Regions from separate parts of the Homo sapiens genome. Here regions 2 and 3 are each reported to be linked to region 1. Evidence: microRNA targets listed by miRTarBase, many of them from high-throughput screens and not tested one by one. Region 1 holds a microRNA gene; each other region holds the end of a gene's coding sequence. Distances are from middle to middle.

Region 1 (7,186 bases):
AGGGAGGGAAGAAGATTTGCTCAACATTGAGGAGGAAAACTCAGAGACCCTTTCCTAGGGAGCCCCTTTTCCCTCCTACCTCAGGTGCGGACGAAGCCCTGGCCAGGCTCCTTCTGTCTCTCATGCAGCTCCCTTCTGTCTCTCATGCGGCTCCCTCCTGTCTCTCATACGGCTCCCTTCTGTCTCTGGAGAGCGGCTGGGACGGGACTGGGAGCAGATGAGAGGCTAAGGTCCCTATGAGGCCGCAGCTCTTGGGCACCTGGCCGTGCCCTCACTGGACGCTGCCTGCTGTGTCGAGGGGCCATGTGCCCAGGGCTCCTGCCTTGTGTCCCCCTCAGGTGCTGATACCTGTGTTCGCGCTGGGCCGCGCCCAGGAGCTCTGCATCCTCCTGGAGACCTTCTGGTAGGTGCCGCCAGGACGGCTCTTTAAGGAGCCCCTGGCCCGGCCTGAACACAGTCCAGTTGGTGGGCAGCCCTGTCCAGCGTAGCGGTGGCATCTTGGCCCTGCTTGCTGCTGTCCTGGGGGGCCGCTCGTGTGCTGTGTGACCCCAGGAAGCCTGTGACATCCCGTCAGCGCCACCGTGTGCGGCTCTTGTAGGGGTTCCTGGTTCTCCGCTGAGCCCGGCTGCTGCAGGGCTTAATGGGACAAGTGGTCGCGACTGGACTCAACCTGGCCCGTGCGTGGGCTGTGCAGACACGGGTGTTGGGGGTGACCCGGCCGAGTCCTGCCCTGCAGCATTCTCCCCTGTGGCCACTGTGCTGACTGGGCCGGTGGTCCCCAGGGAGCGCATGAACCTGAAGGTGCCCATCTACTTCTCCACGGGGCTGACCGAGAAGGCCAACCACTACTACAAGCTGTTCATCCCCTGGACCAACCAGAAGATCCGCAAGACTTTCGTGCAGAGGAACATGTTTGAGTTCAAGCACATCAAGGCCTTCGACCGGGCTTTTGCTGACAACCCAGGACCGATGGTGAGGCCCGCGGCAGGGCCGGCCAGCACATCCACACCCGTCGGTCTCCTGTCTTCCGCAGGTGTCTGGGCTTGGGCCTGCAGTGGGGGTGGGGGCATCTGCTGCCCTGACCCCCCACCTGGCCCTGTGTGTCCTGTAGGTTGTGTTTGCCACGCCAGGAATGCTGCACGCTGGGCAGTCCCTGCAGATCTTCCGGAAATGGGCCGGAAACGAAAAGAACATGGTGAGGGCATGGTGAGGTGTGGGAATCTGGAAGCTGGAGGCCGACGGGTTGTCCTTCCACCCATGCTGTCTCTGAGCTCTCACTGGCTTGGCCTCGTGCTGGCCAAGGGACGTGGCTGCTGCTGCTGGGGAACGGGGGCGATGTCCGCCTGGAGCTGCTCAGTCTCTGTGACACAGCTTGTCCACCTCGGGCAGAACAGCCCCAGCCCAGCCCTGGACAGTCTTGTGCCAAAACCTGAGCCCTTTGGAGTCTGCAGCTAGGCTTGGTCGGGCGCCGCTGGCAGGTGGAAACAGCTTCCAGGGGTTCAGGCGGGGGCATCCCGGGCAAGGCCTTGAGGTGCCAAGGCTGGAGTTCCCTGGCTGTGAGCTCTGTGCCTGCCCCCAGGTCATCATGCCCGGCTACTGCGTGCAGGGCACCGTCGGCCACAAGATCCTCAGCGGGCAGCGGAAGCTCGAGATGGAGGGGCGGCAGGTGGTGAGTCTCGACCCCGCACTGGGCTGGCAGGGCCGAGGGGCACCTCCTGGTGGTAACCACTGTCCACGCCCCGTGGCCTCTGTAGCTGGAGGTCAAGATGCAGGTGGAGTACATGTCATTCAGCGCACACGCGGACGCCAAGGGCATCATGCAGCTGGTGGGCCAGGCAGAGCCGGAGAGCGTGCTGCTGGTGCATGGCGAGGCCAAGAAGATGGAGTTCCTGAAGCAGAAGATCGAGCAGGAGCTCCGTAGGCAGCCGGGCGGGCGGCGTGGGGCCCACCTCGGGTCAGCACGGGCAGCCTGGGCTGAGGCTCTCTCTTCCCCCGGGGTCCAGGGGTCAACTGCTACATGCCGGCCAATGGCGAGACGGTGACGCTGCCCACAAGCCCCAGCATCCCCGTAGGCATCTCGCTGGGGCTGCTGAAGCGGGAGATGGCGCAGGGTATGCGGGCTGGGCAGGGCAGGGCAGGGTGCTCGGGGCAGGCGGCTGGGAGCGGCCCTCACATTGATGGCTCCTGCCACCTCCTCCGCAGGGCTGCTCCCTGAGGCCAAGAAGCCTCGGCTCCTGCACGGCACCCTGATCATGAAGGACAGCGTGAGTGCCAGGACGGTCTCTGGAGGGGGGAGGGCCGCTGCTGCGCTCACTGACCTGTCCCTGCCCCACAGAACTTCCGGCTGGTGTCCTCAGAGCAAGCCCTCAAAGAGCTGGGTCTGGCTGAGCACCAGCTGCGCTTCACCTGCCGCGTGCACCTGCATGACACACGCAAGGAGCAGGAGACGGCATTGCGCGTCTACAGCCACCTCAAGAGGTGGGCGCCCGGCCCCGCCCCCCCCCCACTCCCTTGGGCCCTGGAGGCCAGGCAGGGTCTCACCGAGCCTCCCCACAGCGTCCTGAAGGACCACTGTGTGCAGCACCTCCCAGACGGCTCTGTGACTGTGGAGTCCGTCCTCCTCCAGGCCGCCGCCCCTTCTGAGGACCCAGGCACCAAGGTGCTGCTGGTCTCCTGGACCTACCAGGTAAGGGGTGACCCCCACCCCACCGCGGTCAACACAGGTATCAACATTCCTCCCTGTCCTGCACCACCCACAATGCTTTTGCCTCTGCCCTAGGACGAGGAGCTGGGGAGCTTCCTCACATCTCTGCTGAAGAAGGGCCTCCCCCAGGCCCCCAGCTGAGGCCGGCAACTCACCCAGCCGCCACCTCTGCCCTCTCCCAGCTGGACAGACCCTGGGCCTGCACTTCAGGACTGTGGGTGCCCTGGGTGAACAGACCCTGCAGGTCCCATCCCTGGGGACAGAGGCCTTGTGTCACCTGCCTGCCCAGGCAGCTGTTTGCAGCTGAAGAAACAAACTGGTCTCCAGGCTGTCTTGCCTTTATTCCTGGTTAGGGCAGGTGGTCCTAGACAGCAGTTTCCAGTAAAAGCTGAACAAAAGACTACTTGGTACTCTCTTCTTGGTGTACATGGCTGTGTCCTGCACTGTGCCCCATCCCGCCTGGGACAGAGACGGGCATCCAGGGTGCTGGGACCCGGGCAGGGAGGCTACTGTGGAGACCAGGCAGCAGTGCTGTGGGCCCCAAGCAGCTGTGACTGCCCTGGCTTGACCAGCACAGGGTTGGGCCTGGTGTGGCCTAACTTTGGCTTGAGTGTCCAGGGTCATCCGTGGCTCCCGAACTGTGGCCCCTGCAGGGTGCAGGAGGCAGCACCTGTGGACGGACCAGACCCTGCGTCAGCCTGGGGCAAGACCGGCCCAGCACCCTCCCCACCGCTGAGACCACTCCCATGACCAGGGAGTGGGCCAGCCCAGGACGGGCTACGGGCTGGCCTGAGGGACTGCAGCCCTGGGCGGGGGGCTGCTTCACCCCCAGTTGCTGCCGTCAGTGGCCCCTGGCCCCCCACCCCATGCCTCGGCCACAGTAGTCACTGGGCACATGACAGGAGCTTCTCGTGCCTGTTTTTCTTACCGAGGTTCCCGTACAGCACTGACTTGAGGAATAAGCCGTGGGCTGGGGCTACACGTGTCTGGTGCTTGCCCAGGGGATCTTGGCTCTCCAGAATCGTCTTCACCTGGGCAGGTGCCAAAGCCCCCAGCCCCACGGCCACCAGCACAGCCGTCATCCTCCGTACCTGTGACCCAGAGCCACCTGTGACCCAGAGCCGCCCGTGACCCACCAGCACAGCCGTCATCCTCCGTACCTGTGACCCAGAGCCGCCCGTGACCCACCAGCACAGCCGTCATCCTCCGTACCTGTGACCCAGAGCCGCCCACGACCCAGAGCCAAGACTGCACAGGGGCCTGCCCACCCTCAGCCCCACCCCCTGGGGACGGCCCCAGAACAGAGCCTACCTGTCTATACAGGAAAGACTGGCTCTCAAACTCCAGGTTCCAGAACCGCAGCTTCCTGGAAAAATACGTACCTGTAGGTGTCTGTGGGGCAGTGTTTGCCATCCTCAGCCTACTATGTGGCCTTGGACGGGAGAGTGACAGGGTGGGCCTAAAGACGAGCCTGGTTCCCACTAGCTTGGCCACCAGGGGCCCTGGCTGATCTCCTGCCCCCAGTGAGGCCCATTGGAGGGGCTTAAAACCAGAGAAACAATGCTTGGGCAAGGAGGCAGCAGGACCCTGGAGGCTGGGCAGGTAGCCTGGCCATCCCAGAGGGGCTTGCCCTGGGCCCTCACCTAGGGTCCTGGTGCAGGGTCTGGGAACGTGGCTGGTGCGGGTGCCAGAGACCCCCAGTCCTGTACCTGCTGCTCTGCCACAGAAGTCTGGGGCTGGCAGAAGTTCTTCCCCCCTTCAGGGCTCACCCCAATAGGGGAGGTTCTGGTCAGAAGCTGCCACCTGGTGGGTGGCCCTCGGGACAGTGCTGGGGGCAGCAGAAACCACCCCACCAGAACCACTGGCACCAGTGAGACCTTTCCAGTAGCTGCCAACATTCTTCCATCAGGCATGGCAGGGGTTTTTCAGAGACAAGCAGCCTTCCCTGTTCTCCGCTCCCCAGCCTGGGGGGAGGGCACAGCTGGAGGCTGGGGGGCGTCCGGGCGAATCCCCTCCAGCTGTCCAGGTCCTGAGGACTCCCGGCTGCCTGCCTCCCGCCTCACCTTGCCTTAAAACTGGGGGAGGTGCTGGAGCTAAAATCAGCACGTGACTTGAGGGCAGGGCCACAGCCCAGGGGCCCTTCCTCACCTGCTCTCCTCGGGGGTGACCAAGGGGCTGGCTTGGCCTGGGGAAACGGAGACCCGGCGCAGCGTTCGCACGGGGCTCGGCACCGGGCTGCCAGCGGACTGGAAGGCGCTGAAGTCGTGTGTGCCGAGGAGGTGCTGGGCGGCTTCCTGCATGGCGACCATATCCAGGCAGCTTCAGGGACCAGGGTGACCGTCAGGAGGGTGGGGCCGGCCTGCCCGCCCCCTCCCCGCTGTCAGGGCCACACTCACTCTGCCGGGAGAGTCCAGCATAGGTTGCGTTCAAACACCGGCAGCTCATCACGCCGGTGACAGCCAGTGGCCAGGCGGTACAGGTAGGTCCGGGACGTGGCTGCGTGACGAGCGTGGAAGTCGCTGGGCACTCGGAAGGCCCGCAGGACCCTATGGCGGCAGGTAAAGCTCACCGGAGGAACGACCCCGCCCGCCCGCGGTGTCACATTGGCTCTCCTTCCCCCTCGAGCTCCGACCAGACAAGGAAGTCTGTCCAGATCTCCAGCCTCCGCCCGCGACAGATGGAGTCGGGAAGGCACAGCCCCAGGGCTGCTTAGGTCGCGGGCTCACCTGATGGCCGGGTGCCGCAGGTGTGTGTTGAGGGCCTCGGCCAGGACCTCGGGCGGGAAGGGCGGCCGGCCTGAGCGGCGCTGGACGTCCAGGTGCGCCGCGTTGCTCAGGGCGTGGACCCCGGCGTCCGTGCGGCTGGAGATGGTGAACCTGACCGGCTCCACGGAATTCAGCCGCTCGGCGGCCTCCTGCAGGACCGAGCCGCGGGGCGGGCGGGTGAGCGAGGCCGGACCCCGGGGACGCGCGGGCGGGAGCCTCCCCCTTACCCCTCACCGGGCGTCCCGTGACCGGCTGAGCGCACCTCCAGGTAGTTCTGGACCCCGACGGCGCGCTGAGTGCCCCTGACGGCCGCGACCCCGCTGCGGGCAGAAGCGGGCGGAGGTTACCGGGGGCGCCCTGCCCTGGGGTCTCCGCCGCCGTCTGAGGCCAGGGCCGCTTCCTTCCCCGAACGTTTGGAACCCGCGTCCAGAGACATCCGCCTGCCCGCCCGCGCCCTCCTTCCCGCCTCCGCCCGGGCCCACGTGGCGCCCGCCGCTGCGCCTGGGAAACCTACTTAAAGTCGGTGCCCACGTACTGGAAGTACACAAGATAGCGCGCGCGCACGGAGCCTGAGGCCGGCGCCGAACTCATGGCGGAGCCCAGCCGGTGGCGTCAGAGGCGGCCTCCAGCGCAGGAATCCTGCGCGCGCGCGGACGCGGCCTGGTCACGCCCCCCCCCCCTCCCCCCCGGCCCCGGCCGCTCTTGCGCCTGCGCGGTGGCACCGCGCCACGGCGGCCAGAGTCGGGGAGCGGAGGCGGGGCCGGGCTTAGGGAGCGGCTGCAAAGTGCCGGCCCGCCGCCGAGCGCAGGCGCTCTACCTCTATCGCGGCGCCCCGGGAGGCGCGCACCAACCACGCGGTCACCCCGCGCTCTCGCGGGCGTGCATTCGTTCACTCGCTCATTCATTCGCCGCCGCCCACACTCCCCGAGCGCGCCCGTTCGCCGCGTTGCGGCCAAGTCCTCCCAGACGTGGTTTTTGCAAACGCCCTGAGTTGCGCAACGGCCGGGATGGTTGGAGCGGGCGGGCCCGCGCCCTCCCCGCGCCCTCCCCGCGCCCCACATTTCCACCGACTGTCCCCGGAGACGGCCGTGGCAGGCCCCGCCTCACTTCCGGACCGGGGTGGTCCCTGGACGCTGCGAGAGGCGTTTGGCGACGCTCCCCGGCGGTGACAGCGGGCGGCGCGCGCGGGCGGCGGACCTTGGCGACGCTCCCCGGCAGTGACAGCGGGCGGTGCGCGCGGGCGGCTGACTTTGGCGACGCTCCCCGGCGGTGACAGGCGGGGCGGGGCGCGGCGCGGCGGCCTCATTCCGGGGCGGGCGGGCGCCGAGGCGGCGCGGGCGGGACGAGCGGTCCGGGCCGGCGCGGCTGCCGCTCGGCGCCGCGGTCCTCGTGCCAGTGAGCGCCGCGGCCGCCGCAGCCATGACCGTGGAGTTCGAGGAGTGCGTCAAGGACTCCCCGCGCTTCAGGTGCGCCGCCCGGGGCCGCCGGGGTGGGCGCAGGCCGGGGGCGTCGCTGTCGCCTTTGTGCCCGGCGGCGGGGTGGGGAGGTCAGCGCCGGGCCGGGCCGCGGCCGCCGGGGAGGGGCTGGAGGACCGGCCTCGGACAAAGCGGCGGCCCCGCCCCGCCATGCCCCGGGGGTTGGAACAAAAGACGCTCCTGCCCTGTGCGGCCGCCCCGGGTGGAGGGCGTGCGCGTGGGCAGCCGTGGGCACCTCGGGA
Region 2 (7,186 bases), not on the chromosome of region 1:
AGCAAATGTTTGTAACACCCAAATCACCAATAATGCTTTTATTTTCCACATCAAGATTAATTTATATGTTAGTTTTAGTACAAGTACTAAAATGTATACTTCTTGCCCTAATAGCTAAGGTATACATAAGCTTCACCATACATCTTGCAGCCACCTGTCTGTCCTATGTCATTGTTATAAATGTAGAGATTTTAGGAAACTATTTTATTCAACCTGGGACATCTATACTGTAGGAGTTAGCACTGACCTGATGTCTTATTTAAAAGTAATGTATATTACCTTTACATATATTCCTTATATATTTAAACGTATTTCCATGTTATCCAGCTTAAAATCACATGGTGGTTAAGAGCATGAGTTCTGAGTCAGATCTGGACTGAAATCCTGATGCTACCACATGGGTTAGGTTGTGACTGTGGTCAAGTCACTTAACTTCTTCATGGCCCAGGTGGCTCATTTTTAAAAGAGAAAACCTTCATAAATGCTTTCGGTAAAGATGAGATGCTTAGCATAGTGCCTGTCACACAGTATACATTGCCATTTCCCCCTTCCTGTCTGCTTCATCTGTTCACACTGCTGCTAAAACAGTAAGAACCCAGCTGTCGTCAGTCACACACACATTCCCTAAGAAGTGTCTTTCTGAGATGCACTGTGGCACAGAAAAATGAGCACCAACTTTCAAGCGACTTAAACCCAACTCCAAATTTGAACTTCACATCCACCACCAAGTGTCATACCATACGAAGACAAGTTCCTGGCCTGAGTCTTGGTTTCCTCAAATGCAAATGAGATCGTGCCCGCTCCACCTCATGCTGCCATAAGGATGAACTAAGGAGAACCCAGCACTGGCCCACAAAATGAGCTAACAAGCATTCTCCTCATTAGTCCTAGGCACTGGAGAGATTCAAAGTGCAAGAATGAAATACTTTGTTCATCTTTAGGCAAGGTCCTTTGCAACCCAACCTCAAAGAAAAGTGCTGGCACAAAGAAGGTAAGCAAGCAAGGCAGAGCTGGGGAGGGGACACCAGGAACAAATGGGGAGTGGAATGCCTGAGTCCTGCTTCCCGTTGTCAGATGGTGCCTGAATGTGCTTTCTGTTGGGTGATGCTTGTATGGCTGTGCTGTGAGATGCAGGAGAAAGGGGTGAATGTAAACCGTGGGTGGGTTTGGGCTGAAAATACTGTTTGTTGCCAAGGAAACACAAGGAACAATTCATAAGGCTAGGATATTGATTTCAAAAACTCTGAGAACTAAGGCTGATCTCTGAGTTTCCTAAAACCCCCAATTGTGCTGAGACGACTGATTACACATCAGCATTGCCAACGCAGAAGAAACCTGAATGCCCACGCATCAACACCACTCACTGTTAACAAGCAGGAGCATATGCGCCACGTGGCTTCCAACCACACAGTGTTTCCACGTTTCTTTTGATTTCATCTACTAAATAACCTAGAAAACTCAGCCACTCAAGAAAGAGACAAGAGTGGCAGCCAGTTTTTCTCTTTGAAAAACTCGATGCTTAAACAGGAGGCCGCAATCTGCCAGCATTCAACAGCAGCCCCAGAACATTAATGATCACACACCTCCAACCTTACCGGTAATGCTCAGAGTGACATTCTCGGCTCACTCAGCCCTTTTACACAAACTCAGTCACAACCCTTGGAGCTGGGTTTCTTTTGTTAACTTTTAGCGAGGTTATTACTAAAGCCAATTTAACCCTAAAATCAGACCTTACTTTACCACAGCATTTTTAGGGAGAAAGACTTTGGTTCCTTAGAGATAAGGCAGAAAAATACTATAAAGCATTGAACACAGACAAAGAATGTGGCCCTAAAGAGTGACCTATAACTTGTGGTTAAGGCTAAGTGTTCAATGAGGTTTTGAGTGGTGGCTGCTCTTGAACGTATGTGTTCTTTTACCACACACTCCACAGAAGTTCTAACTCTTACAGTGAGCCAAAAGTCTGTTAAAATAGTAACAAGGAAGGTGTACACACACACACAACCTTTGTTGAGTTCCTTGGAAACCCAACAGCTCAGAGTATGACCTTAGGTCACTTAGTAAACCTTTTGAAATGAAGGCCAAGCAATTGCCTTTTAGGGGAGCAGCTGACCTCAGAAGCCACGGAGGTTAGGTCCTTTATGACAAACTTCTGGTCTCTGTGGAGCCCTGATGAAGTAGGAGTCTAATGGGGTTCCACACGTGGCCTAACAGAAATGGAGCTGTCCATCTCTCCACACTAGATTCCACTGTGGAGACATTTACTGCAATATAAATGTGCCAATCCAAGGATAGCACACTCACTTTCAATCTTATAATTCTGTAATACAGAATTGGGTAAAGGTTCTCCATGTCTTAAGGCATTTGTCTCAAATGATTTTCAAGCTTAATACTTGTTTTCAGCTTAGGATTCTTACCTATGAAAACAAAATCCTTTATTAACCACACCTACACAAATCCCCCCAAATCCTGAAATGGAAGCCTTTGAAAGCTGGTACAAGGTAAGGATCCAAGGCACAATCATAACATGTAAATGTGTGAAAATCGAGAATTCTGTTCATTTTAGCACTTCACAGGACCCCCAGTGAGAACACCTTTACTAGAAGGCATCAGGAAAGGCTCTCCCCTAAGGAACTGGTATGCTTTTCACCTACTGATAGGGCAGTGCATAACTTCTTTCCCTACCCTTAGCCTTGATTTCCAGAAAGTTCCAGAGTCAAATTTTACATACAATAATGTATGTAAACCCTCCCTTCAATTTTCATTTGTTTTTCTTCCCTTTCTGTTCATATTTCATTAACATGGCTGTATATGTCTTTTCTTGGTATGCTGCTTCAAGTGCTTTTGGGAAAGAGGCCAGGTATTAATGTAAATATATTTCAAATACAGACTGAAAAAAGCAAGCAAATATTGCAATTATCTTAGTATATAAAAGAGGGTATCTTCGCTCTCATGGTACACCTTAATCAAAAAGCAGTATTTAGGAATTATCTAAATTAAAATAAAATACACCTATTAGGATAAAATACTCCAGCAGCAGGCCTGGACTCACCAATTTCAGAACCCCTCAACTCCTTGGCTTTACCAAGAACAGTCATATTCCCTGAATATAACACTGGTCACCTTCACTAGTTCCATGCTAGTGCGAAGAGCCCTGCACTAGATCAGGGTTGTGTGTGCTTAGCTATGTGAACTGGCTAAGTCATTACCATCTGATCACCTCTGTGTCCTCCCCCTTAGAGTGAGGGCAGCTACTACTGCTCCTATGCTACAAAACTATGAGGAGGTAAACTCAGGCTTGCTCTTAGAAGTGCAATAGAAACAGAAGATCATACACCATGGAGGCCTAAAGTGATTCTTTCTAAAGAGCCTAAGGACTTTTTTTTTTTTTTGAGACAGAGTCTCACTCCGTCACCCAGGCTGGAGTGCAGTGGTGTGATCTCGGCTCACTGCAACCTCCGCCTCCTGGATTCAAGCGATTCTCCTGCCTCAGCCTCCCAAGCAGCTGGTACTATAGGCGCCTGCCACCACGCCCAGCTTATTTTTTTTGGTATTTTTAGTAGAGACGGGGTTTCACTATGTTGACCAGGCTGGTCTCAAACTCCTGACCTCGTGATCCACCCACCTTGAGCTCCCAAAGTGCTGGGATTACAGGCATGAGCCACCGTGCCCGGCCAGGACTTTACACCAATTTCTTTTTCTAAATTCAAAGTTCTTTTTTTGGCAGCAATGATACAGGTGGGGAAATGATATAAACACGGAGATACAGGCACCAAATAATGAAAGAAAACATTTCTATACATAAAACATTTATACCTGTTTTCATTTTTTTACATTAAGATGTAAACATCCTCTTATCCAAAATAGCCAGTGAAAAAATAAAAACAAAAACAAAGTAAGCCTTTAAAAATAGTTGGTGAGGAGTTTTCAAGTGTTCTTGCTGAATGTATCCGAATACCAAACATTGTAACTCGTCAATTCAATGACAAGGAGGTAGCTCCTGAACCAAACTGGTGCGAGCTGTGTCAATACAGAGCAAAATCTCAACCAGAATGCTCCAACTTCCCTATTTACAAGAAAATTCTGTTTTAACCATTAGTTTAGAAAACCTTTCTTTTTTGAGACAGAGTCTCGCTCTGTTGGCCAGGCTGGAGTACAGTGGCGTGATCTTGGCTCACTGCCAACTTCCACCTCCTGGGTTCAAGCGATTCTCCTGCCTCAGCCTCCCGAGTAGCTGGGACTAAAGGCACGCGCAACCACACCCAGCTAAATTTTGTATTTTTAGTAGAGATGAGGTTTCACCACGTTGGCCAGGCTGATTCTCAAACTACTGGTCTCAAGTGATCTGCCTGTCTCGGCCTCCCAAAGTGCTGGGATTACAGGCCTGAGTCACCGTGCCTGGCCTGAAACCCTTTCTAAATTGAACCACTTCACTTTCCTGGCTACAAAATGCCCAACACAATTCAATGGTGTTTTGATGATTCAGGATCTTGTGATGCCTTGGGGTATCTCTCAGAATATGCATACTTTTGTTAGAGGAGAAGACTGGAGCCAACTACTATTTCCTGTTTTACATGAATCCCTGATATCATAAGCTTATTGTCTTCCTTTTACCTCATTCTCCTAAAAGGAGGGTGCAGACTAAGGTTCTAGTTAAGCAAGATTTTACAGTTCTAGACATATCCACAAATACTGGTTCACGCAAACAAGACAGTTCACTAACTTTTTACCCTCTATTTCTCTACTTAATAAATATGCCTAGTAACAACAATTACAATGTAATGGGATCTGTTTTTCTGGATGATATCAAATTTCAGTATCCTATGAATTCCTTGTTTGAAATATTTTCTTTAAAAAACAAAGGAAAATCACCCATGAAGATGACTTCCAAAACCATGAGAGTTATAGATTTTGCTAGTGGAATCCAACTGTGCTTCCTATATTATTAATTCATAACTGCTTAAACAATCTTTAAAACGTTATCAAAAAACAAGTAAGTTCTCTCAGATACTAGGGGCTTAATTCCTCAAAGCCATAAAATAATGAGTTGCTAGGAAAGCCACCTTCTGATTCTTACTACAGTCAAGCATTTCCATAGTGCGGACCCATGCCACTGGTGGCACACAACATGTCTTTAAGTGATGCACAACATAGAATAATGCTGAATCACAGTGAGAATGTCATTCCCTTTACAGTTTCCTTTTATCCTCTGACTATTCCAGAGACAGTGCCTCATGCTGGTGCTGGTAACATCTCCCTCACTGCCACAAAGAAAGAGCCTAAGATTCGGAGCCTTTCTAGGCATTAGTTTCTAGCTAGAACTGAACAACATTTTTTGTGTTCATCTTACTTATTTTGTGGTTACCTTTTATTTATGGCAAACTGATACTGGTTTTCCACTTGGAGCAGGATTCATTTTTTTAAAAAAACTTTAAAATTTAAAAGATAAATATTAAGAAAATAATACAAGTAGTACTAAAGAGACTGAAGTTTGGGAAACAACGGCTATAGTGTGAGTCATATTTTTTAGACGTGATTTCAAAAGAAACAATAAATGTGGATTAGAAAGGAAACATCCATTACTGTATTTTCGATACTTGTGATGTTCCACAGACGAGCTCATCACAGTCTTCTTCTACATCAGGTGATTTCCAGAGTTAAGATTCAAGCAAAAATATAAAAGTAAAAAGAACCAATTTCACACCATCTTGGACTTTATAAACTCGTAGTACCATAAGTGTGCAAATAATCTGATATTTATCACAGTCATTTATTTAAAACATAAACTTTCCAATTTCTGCAGCTTTTTATTTGGTCTATACTAATGCCTCACAAAGGCAAACTCAGGTTGTAGAGTTCCTCCTGCCTGGTCCTCAGAGCAATACCACATCTATTTTCTGAACTCTTCAGGAAGGATTCAGGACTGCTGGCCAAGACTTCCAATGGCATATGACTGTTCTTCCACTGTTACGGCCTTGAAGAGAGAAATCCCCTCCTCCTCTGAATGATAGTCTCATGGCCAACATTCTTCTGAGAGGACTCTTCCATGCTCACAGGCACATCATGCTGATTTTAAAAAAGGAAAGTTGGAGAGAAAGAAAGCAGAGCTTCTCCTCTGTGGGGAACAGCTTCTTCATCACAGTGCAGTTATGATATGTTCCCTCCTTATCCCCCTGAAGCCAAGGCAATAGATCTGAAGGATGGTGTCAGACATCATAATCGGGAGCCTTGCCCTGGGCTTGCCTTAGCCAGATCTGTAGTGTAACAAATGCTCCCACAGTCACATGAAAGAAAAGCTGCCAGAGGTTGCGCAGTTCATAGAGATACATGTTGCATAGACAGATTAAGCCAAAAGTCAAAAAAGATTTGACATTCCGCCAGCCGGTGTAGTAGACAAGTAAATAACACTGTTCAAAATATAAAAATGAAAGATGATTAGGGTTACAGGAAAAGAAACAGATGTTTCTAATATAAAATTGTAACAGGTCAGAGAGTAAAATATAAGAATGGATAAGGTTATTTTTTATCTAGGGATAAGATAATGTAGCATATATCTAAGACATTCAGCTATGAAAGTTTCACAGTTTGAAAGGGAAATAGATTTTCCTCTTAAGTTTTTCATTTTTCAGAAGAAAAGCATTTTGTATCATATTTTAAATGGAAGTACAATGGAATGACTTCCTTGCAAACAGGCTGAGCAAATTCCCCATGGTGACAGGCAACTAAGAAGCATTCCCAGGGTCTGCGGGTGTTCCATTCTCACCCAGGAAAATACAAAAAAGCACATACAAGCTATTCTACAAAATGGACTCTTAATATAACCTGAGTCTGAGTATTAACAAAATCCACAACATTTTACTAGTCGCCCACTGAGTACAAGGAACTATGCTAGGTACAGCATCTGACTGAACATTTGAGGGAGAATTCATTCAACAAATATTTACTCAGGGCCTGCTACAAGTCAGGCATTGTTCTTCAGTTGTAAGTAAAACAAAGCCCTTGTTCATATAAATATTAAATTTTAATGGGGAAGAATTATAAATGTATTTTAAATATATAATATCAAACAGTTATGTCTTGAAAAAGAGAAAGCAGGAAAAAGGGATAGGGAGTAAGAATGATAGTGGGTGCTATTTTAGATGAAACGGTCAAGAAAGTACTCCCCCTCTCACCGCTCCTGCCCATC
Region 3 (7,186 bases), 150 Mb from region 1:
GGAGGTAACATAGCACTGCCAGCTTGGGGCTCCTCTCTTCCTGCGTTTGACCCTACTCCTGCCCCTCTATTTCTGCTCAGCTTGCTCTTTGATGACTTCTGCCTTGACCCGTTCTCTTCCTGGCATGCACATGCTCTGGCCCAGCAGGTACGGTGCCCATACTTACTTCGGGCCCCGTGCTCGCTTCTGTCGCTCTGCTTGCTGCCACCTCCCTCTGTCATTGCCTCTGTTCCTGGGGTGGATGAAGGTTGCTGGGCAAAGGGGATATGTTAGCAGGGCTAGGCAGGACACCAGTTCTAAATCCTACTTCCTAAAGATTTGTCTGTATGTCTATAGCTGGAGCAGTTCAGCATGGAGAGCCCATCAGCCAGCCTGGTGCTGGATCCCCCTGGCTTTTCTGAAGGGCCTGGATTTTTAGGGGGTGAGGGGCCAATGGGTGGCCCCCAGGATCCCCACACCTTCAACCACCAGAACTTGACCCACTGTTCCCGCCATGGCTCAGGGCCTAACATCATCCTCACAGGTGAATGGGGGTGGGTGGTGATGGGAAATGGAAGGAGGAAGTGACACATTCACTAATGAGTAGGAGATTGAGGGGTCTTGGAAAAGTTTACAGGACATGGGGTCCTCACCTGTCTCTTCTACCCACAGGGGACTCCTCTCCAGGTTTCTCTAAGGAGATTGCAGCAGCCCTGGCCGGAGTGCCTGGCTTTGAGGTGTCAGCAGCTGGATTGGAGCTAGGGCTTGGGCTAGAAGATGAGCTGCGCATGGAGCCACTGGGCCTGGAAGGGCTAAACATGCTGAGTGACCCCTGTGCCCTGCTGCCTGATCCTGCTGTGGAGGAGTCATTCCGCAGTGACCGGCTCCAATGAGGGCACCTCATCACCATCCCTCTTCTTGGCCCCATCCCCCACCACCATTCCTTTCCTCCCTTCCCCCTGGCAGGTAGAGACTCTACTCTCTGTCCCCAGATCCTCTTTCTAGCATGAATGAAGGATGCCAAGAATGAGAAAAAGCAAGGGGTTTGTCCAGGTGGCCCCTGAATTCTGCGCAAGGGATGGGCCTGGGGGAACTCAAGGGAGGGCCTAAAGCACTTGTAACTTTGAACCGTCTGTCTGGAGGTCAGAGCCTGTTGGAAAGCAGGGGTAGAGGGGAGCCCTGGAAGCAGGGCTTTTCCGGATGCCTAGGGGTGGGCAGTGCCAGCCCCTCCTCACCACTCTTCCCCTTGCAGTGGAGGAGAGAGCCAGAGTGGATACTATTTTTTATTAAATATATTATTATATGTTAATAAAAAAATCATATCAAACCCTTGGTGTGGTTAGTTATTTGGGGCATGGCTGGGGATCTAGGGAGTTATAGGGCCATGGGTCTTTTTATCTATTAGGCTTTTTGCATCTTCTTAGCACCACTGTGCTTTGTGGAAGGGCCCCACAGCCTCGGAATTTGTACCCAGCTGGATGTAGGCTTCCACGGCAGCAGGAAATCACTTCATGTGCCCTCCTGTCTGTCCAGGGCCCTGCTGCAGCATCAGATGGGGGCTTTGACTGATCAGACAAGTTATTCCTCTTCCTCAACCCTAGGTCTGGCAGTGAGTCGGGTAAGGAGGTGATTGCTGGCTGAGCCCACAGGTCTGAAGTGCTCCTAGGTCTCAGGGAAGCAAGCCTTCATCCTCACTCCCTCACTATGCATGCATTCACTTCACCCTCTCCACTCTTCACCACTCATTCATTTTAGTTTTAATTAAACAGATCCTTCAGTGCCATGCATGTTCTGAAGGTTTTCTCTTTCTGGATTGGGTTGCCAGCCCTTGGACCAGCCGTGTGGGCCTCTGCACCCCTCACTCCCCCAACCCGCATAGTGAGAAAAGTAGAGCCCCGCAGTTACCTTACCCCCACCTCCACTGCTCTATTCCACACCCTGCAGTCCTGGCCTCTCTTCCTCTTTCCAAAGCTCTTGTCATTTTCAAAAAAGAGAACTGAGAGCTTCTGGTTCTGGTCCAAAGGGAATGCCCTGTGCCCTAAACCTGGAAGTAGGGGGAGCCACCTGGGTCCCCGTAGACTAGACCTTCGGGACTTCACCTGCGCCCACATCATGCTTGCCACATCTGACTGCAGGACCCAGGCGGGAAGGGAGCGCGCCGCGGCCCTCTGGGTCGCCTGGGGTCAGTGTCCTGAGGCACGGGCTGGATGGTGGGAAGCTACCTGGGTGCAGGGGGCCCTCCCAGCCGCCAGGGGTCGGGCTGCAGGCGGCTGGGCTTTGGGCAGACGCTTGCCAGGGTCACGGCCGCCGGCCGAGGAGGAGGGGTGGGGGTAGCGGCGGCGCCCGCGGCCCGGAGCGGGGGTTGGGGGAGTAGAGAAAGCGGGGCGCGCGGAGGAACGCTGGGTCCCCGGCGCCGCGGGAGCTGGGAGGACCGAGCCGGCCGAGCGAGCAGCGCGGCAGCACAGTCCCCGCGTGGCGCAGCGCGGCGGGGACGCGGGGACCGCCCGGATCTCCTTCCACTGCGCCCCGCGCTCTGCGGTCCTCGGCCGCCTCTTCTTCCTTCACTCACTGCCCGGGCGGGAGCGGCGCCCAAGTCGGGTGCGCCATGTCTGGGGCCGGGTAGCCCCGCCGCCCGCCGGCCCGCCAGCTCGCCCTCCGAGCCACCCGCCAGCGGGCCGGCCGGCCGGGAAGCGCGGGACAGGCAGGTAGGGGCTGGACCGGGCTGGGCGGCAGGCGGGGACGGGCAGGAGGGAGCGCGGGCGGCAGGCGGGGTGGGGGATGGCCCCCAGCTGCTGTCCCTCACTGCACATCTGGTTCCGGTTCCTCTCTCCTGGGGAAGTGAAAGTGGAGGGGAGGGCACCTCCCGCAATTAGCTCGCCGTGCCCGGCCTCCTGCACCCCCTTCTGCTCCCGTGGGTGCCGGAGTCGGAGCCGCCCTCCCTCCCGCTTGGGTCACGCGGCGGCCGGCGCTGCTGCCGTCACGTCCTCGGCCGCCGGCGCGCCTGCTTCTCTGCCCTCCTGCTCCTTCCTCAGCCTCCTCCCCCTCGGCGCGCCCTCTGCCCCAACCCGAACTTCCCGTCACCCGGCACGCGGGCGTGGGGACCCGGAGTGGGCCCTGTGCCCGTTGTCTTCCCTAGGGAGAAAGGGCTGCTTTCTGCAGGACTCTTCCCTGGCTTGGTGAGGGGAGGCCCCGGTGCGCAGGTCCTGCGGATGGGTGCCACCCACTTGCCCCTCAGAAGGTCCCACCTAATGGCCTCTGCCTGCTGCCTTGGGCATAGGGCTCCCATTCGCCCTCAGTGGATGAGGGACAGGTCTGTGCCCCAGAATTAAATCAAGAGGCTGACGCTGACTCCTGGCTTTACCTCCCAGAAGTGGAGTCTAAATTTAGCTGGGGTTGGTGTGTGTACGTGTGTGCGTGTGTGTGTGCGTGTGTGTGTGTGTGTGTGTGTCCAGAGGCCAGGTGATGAAGAAAGCCAGCCTGGCTCTATGAGATTCCTTATTCCCTGTTCTCTGGGGGAACAGCAGGAGGTTAGCAGGACTGCACATCCTGGAACCATTCTGAGCCTCCTCTGCCTTGCTCAGGATCCTATAGTCTGAGATTCCAACTTGGCGTAATGCTGTGCTGGCACCTTCAATGGTAACCCCACCACCGCCACCGCCACCACACACACCCATAGGCTGACTTCCTCTGAGTTGCAGCTTCCCCTCCACTGTTTCAGGAAGTAACCTCCCTTCCCCTCTGAAGCACCCCCCACGCTTCTGGGCCCCTGCTGCGAGCTACCCACCAGGCTTTTTCCCAGCTTCTGCACCCTGGGGCGCCTCAGGACCCTTGGGGCTCCTACTCCCCGGGGTTGGGCCATGGAGGCAGGTGAGAACTAGGCTGTTGTGGGCCTGTTTCTGTCTCTGGGCTCCATGGTGGAGGGTGTGGGATGGCCGGGACTTGTCTCTCACAACTGCTTTGGATCTAACGAGCTACCTAAGGATCCTGGAGGTGTGAGAACACTGGATTTTGGGCCAGATTGGTGGAGTTAAGCTAGGAGAAAGGACACTTGGGTTCGTTGAAAAGACTCTTAAAGCTTGGGTTTTGTGGGCTTTCTCAGAAACCCATGGGGTCCTCTTAAAAACCTAGGAGTGGGCTCTTTAAGAACATTGGCAGGATCACAAGGTTCTTATGGTGTCATAACTAGAGTAGGAAGGTCAGAAACCCTTGAAAAGACTGTAAGGTTGGTATGATGTCATGGCCAGCATGAATGATGTCATGGAAGGCTATTACAAAAAAGATTGTGATCTCTGTGATGTTATAACTGGTGAGCCTTTAAAAGGGACACATGGACAATGTGAATGTCATAGCTCAGGTTAGCTGTGTGTGGTGGAGTTTAGGTTCTTTGAGGGGAGTGCCAGGACCATTAAGTGGGAGGGATCTGGTCTCTTTAAGAAGCTGTGGTGGGCAGTGATGTCACAGGGGGAAGAGTTCAGGATTGGCCGACCCCTTATCCTGCCTTTCTTTGGAAGGACTAGGAAGAGGAGGGGAGCAAGAGGGTACCCTGGTTGCCATGGCATCCCCAGCCTTCCTTGCTTCATCTCTCTCCCACTTGACCATTCCAGATGCAGTGAGTGAGGGGGGGGCCATGGCGGAGGAGCGGCCCCCCCGGCTGGTGGATTACTTCGTGGTAGCTGGGCTTGCAGGGAACGGAGCACCCATCCCTGAGGAAACGTGGGTTCCTGAACCCAGTGGGCCCCTGCGCCCTCCCCGGCCAGCTGAGCCCATCACAGATGTGGCAGTCATCGCTAGGGCACTGGGCGAGGAAGTGCCCCAGGGCTACACATGCATCCAGGCTTCTGCTGGGGGCCACCCCTTGGAACTCAGTGCTGGACTTCTGGGTGGAACTCAACCCGTCATCTGCTACCGCAGGGGCCGTGACAAGCCCCCCCTCGTTGAGCTGGGGTGTGTGCCCCTACCCATGCTGGCACCAGGGGAGGCTGGGAGGGACTCCAGTGAGACAGGGAGAGGTAGGACTATGGAACAAGGGAAGGGCAATGGGGATGGGAGCCTGGTGGGCCAGGGGCCAGGAAGGAAGGACTGAAGTTGTATGTACTTAGTCCTTACAGATGCGATTTCATGTGCTAGTGCTGCTCCTTGCTAGCTCTGAGAGCTTAGGCAGGTTTTTGAGCTCCTCTGGGCCTGTTTTCCTCATCTGTCAAATGGGGAAAATAATTCATCCTCATAGGATGGTCGAGATTAAATGAGATAACCCATGTGACAGACTTAACAGAGTCAGTCAGTGGTAGCTTGTATAACTATTTTTTTTTTTTTTTTTTTTTTTATAGACAGAGTCTCTCTCTGTCACTCAGGCTGGAGTGCAGTGGTGTGATCTTGGCTCACTGCAACCTTCGCCTCCTGGGTTCAGGCAATTCTCCTGCCTCAGCTTCCTGAGTAGCTGAGACTATAGGCATGTGCCACCACGTCCAGCTAATTTTTGAATTTTTAGTAGAGATGGGGTTTGACCATGTTGGCCAGGCTGGTCCTGAACCCCTGACCTCAGGTGATCCACCTGCCTTGGCCTCCCAAAGTGCTGGGATTATAGGCATGAGCCACCGTGCCCAGCTGACCCTTAGTGTTTATTAATGAGTATGAGAGCCATAGAAGGCATGCAGGATTGTTGCTGACCATGAAATAAGGCCAAAGGCCAAAGAAAGGGCACAGGATTCTGGAGGGCAGAGTTCAGCAAGAAGAGGTGGGCCCTAGTGTTAGAGTTTGACAAGGCTGTGGGTACAAGGCAAGTTCAGGGGATTAGATAGGCAGATCTGGCAGGATTGGGTCTTTGTCCTCTACCCTGACCTCTCAACATCTATCTTTGCTCTCTGTGCCAAGGGTGTTGTATGAGGGGAAGGAACGTCCCAAGCCTGGCTTCCAAGTGCTTGACACGACACCCTACAGCCACTCAGCAAACCTGGCCCCTCCAGGCCCCGGGCACCCCCGCACCTACCTCACTTACCGGCGGGCAGCAGAGGGGGCAGGGCTGCATGCCCTGGGCATCACTGACCTCTGCCTGGTGCTGCCCAGTAAGGGCGAGGGCACTCCTCATACTTACTGCCGGCTGCCCCGCAACCTCAACCCTGGCATGGTGAGTGGGGCCAAGAGCTGACACCTGGTCCTCTTGGTGTAAGAGTGGGTGTGGACACTGGGAACAAAGGGCATCCCAGGACCAAGGCTCTGACCACAGGGGTGAGTCCAGAGGGGTAACTCTGGTCTTGGGGCACTGGGATTAATGGGAGCTTTAAAGACAAAAGAACATTTAGGGGTGGTAGAGAGAAAGTGGACCCCAGAAACCTTTGTTAGCTATGTATCTGCTTGTCTCTTGCCATTTCTGGGGTAGTGGGGCCCAGCAGTGTACCTGTGCTATAAGGTGGGCCTGGCGAAGGCCAACACGCTGGTGTACGAGGCAGGTGAGTGGCCCCTTTATCCCTCCAATCCTGTGACCCTACATCCCTTTGCCCTGGTGCCTCTTGGCAGGCACCTTAAGTGTCCCCAGAGTTTACTTTCTCTTTGCTACTCGGGCCTTCTCTGGGATCCCTTGGTTCATTTCCCTTGGAGTCTGATGGACCCTGCTCCTTTTGGGTACCCCCAACTATGCTGGGGGTGCAGAGCTGCTGGGCCGCTACCCGGAGGAGGACAATGAGGCGTTCCCGCTGCCCGAGTCAGTGCCCGTCTTCTGCCTGCCCATGGGGGCCACTATCGAGTGCTGGCCTGCCCAGACCAAGTACCCCGTGCCCGTCTTCTCCACCTTTGTGCTCACGGGTGCAGCTGGTGATAAGGTGGGTGTGTGGAGTGTGGCAAGGGGTCCAGGCTATGCAGGGCCTGCCTGACTACCCTTCTGCCCCCTGCCAGGTGTATGGTGCCGCCCTGCAGTTCTACGAGGCGTTCCCAAGGGCCAGGCTATCAGAGCGACAGGCACGGGCACTGGGCCTGCTGAGCGCCGTGGAGCGGGGTCGGGCACTGGGGGGCAGAGCTGTGCGCAGCCGGCGTGCCATCGCTGTGCTGTCCCGCTGGCCTGCCTTCCCTGCCTTCCGCGCCTTCCTCACCTTCCTTTACCGCTACTCCGTCTCAGGCCCCCACCGCCTACCCTTGGAAGCGTGAGCATGGCTCCTCTGCCATTGGGAAGGGGTTAGGAAGGGATAAGGGGGCCAGGAGAGATGGGAGAGATTCA

What was found. Region 1 holds the annotated microRNA hsa-miR-6727-3p (UCCUGCCACCUCCUCCGCAG, at 2,183-2,202, shown strand). A microRNA usually pairs through its seed, bases 2 to 8, with sites in the 3' UTR of a target mRNA and lowers its output. Matches are read on the target gene's strand: a 7mer-m8 pairs with bases 2 to 8, a 7mer-A1 pairs with bases 2 to 7 and ends in A, and an 8mer does both.
Region 2: the mRNA of SEC22A is a reported target of hsa-miR-6727-3p. Seed matches in the 3' UTR shown: 7mer-A1 at 5,861-5,867 and 7mer-A1 at 4,212-4,218.
Region 3: the mRNA of CRTC2 is a reported target of hsa-miR-6727-3p. Seed matches in the 3' UTR shown: 7mer-m8 at 940-946.

The regions. Positions count from the first base shown.
Region 1 is chr1:1,307,518-1,314,703 of GRCh38, reverse strand. It overlaps MIR6727 (microRNA 6727), which reads left to right and starts at 2,138; the gene lies at 2,138-2,202. ACAP3 (ArfGAP with coiled-coil, ankyrin repeat and PH domains 3) reads left to right here and starts at 6,774. Exons shown (of 24, transcript NM_030649.3): 1 at 6,774-6,935. The coding sequence starts at 6,889. It overlaps PUSL1 (pseudouridine synthase like 1), which reads right to left and starts at 6,107. Exons shown (of 8, transcript NM_153339.3): 1 at 5,984-6,107; 2 at 5,732-5,789; 3 at 5,431-5,618; 4 at 5,101-5,250; 5 at 4,853-5,023; 6 at 4,016-4,070; 7 at 3,633-3,795; 8 at 3,027-3,374. The coding sequence starts at 6,060. The coding sequence ends at 3,325. It overlaps INTS11 (integrator complex subunit 11), which reads left to right. Exons shown (of 17, transcript NM_017871.6): 8 at 339-403; 9 at 783-972; 10 at 1,112-1,195; 11 at 1,580-1,669; 12 at 1,755-1,917; 13 at 2,004-2,111; 14 at 2,203-2,264; 15 at 2,336-2,478; 16 at 2,557-2,686; 17 at 2,780-3,104. The coding sequence ends at 2,845. RefSeq lists silencers at 5,466-5,595, 5,606-5,745, 5,776-5,845, 6,066-6,745, 6,786-6,955 and 1 more.
Region 2 is chr3:123,270,743-123,277,928 of GRCh38, reverse strand. It overlaps SEC22A (SEC22 homolog A, vesicle trafficking protein), which reads right to left. Exons shown (of 7, transcript NM_012430.5): 7 at 3,793-6,407. The coding sequence ends at 6,207. Among named protein-coding and RNA genes, the nearest start is that of SEC22A, 72 kb to the right of the region's middle.
Region 3 is chr1:153,941,795-153,948,980 of GRCh38, reverse strand. It overlaps CRTC2 (CREB regulated transcription coactivator 2), which reads left to right. Exons shown (of 14, transcript NM_181715.3): 13 at 337-523; 14 at 652-1,306. The coding sequence ends at 872. DENND4B (DENN domain containing 4B) reads left to right here and starts at 2,263. Exons shown (of 28, transcript NM_014856.3): 1 at 2,263-2,680; 2 at 4,584-4,923; 3 at 5,851-6,103; 4 at 6,356-6,425; 5 at 6,625-6,794; 6 at 6,868-7,112. The coding sequence starts at 4,607. RefSeq lists enhancers at 1,692-1,761, 2,573-3,073, 3,542-3,591, 3,912-4,011 and a silencer at 2,152-3,051.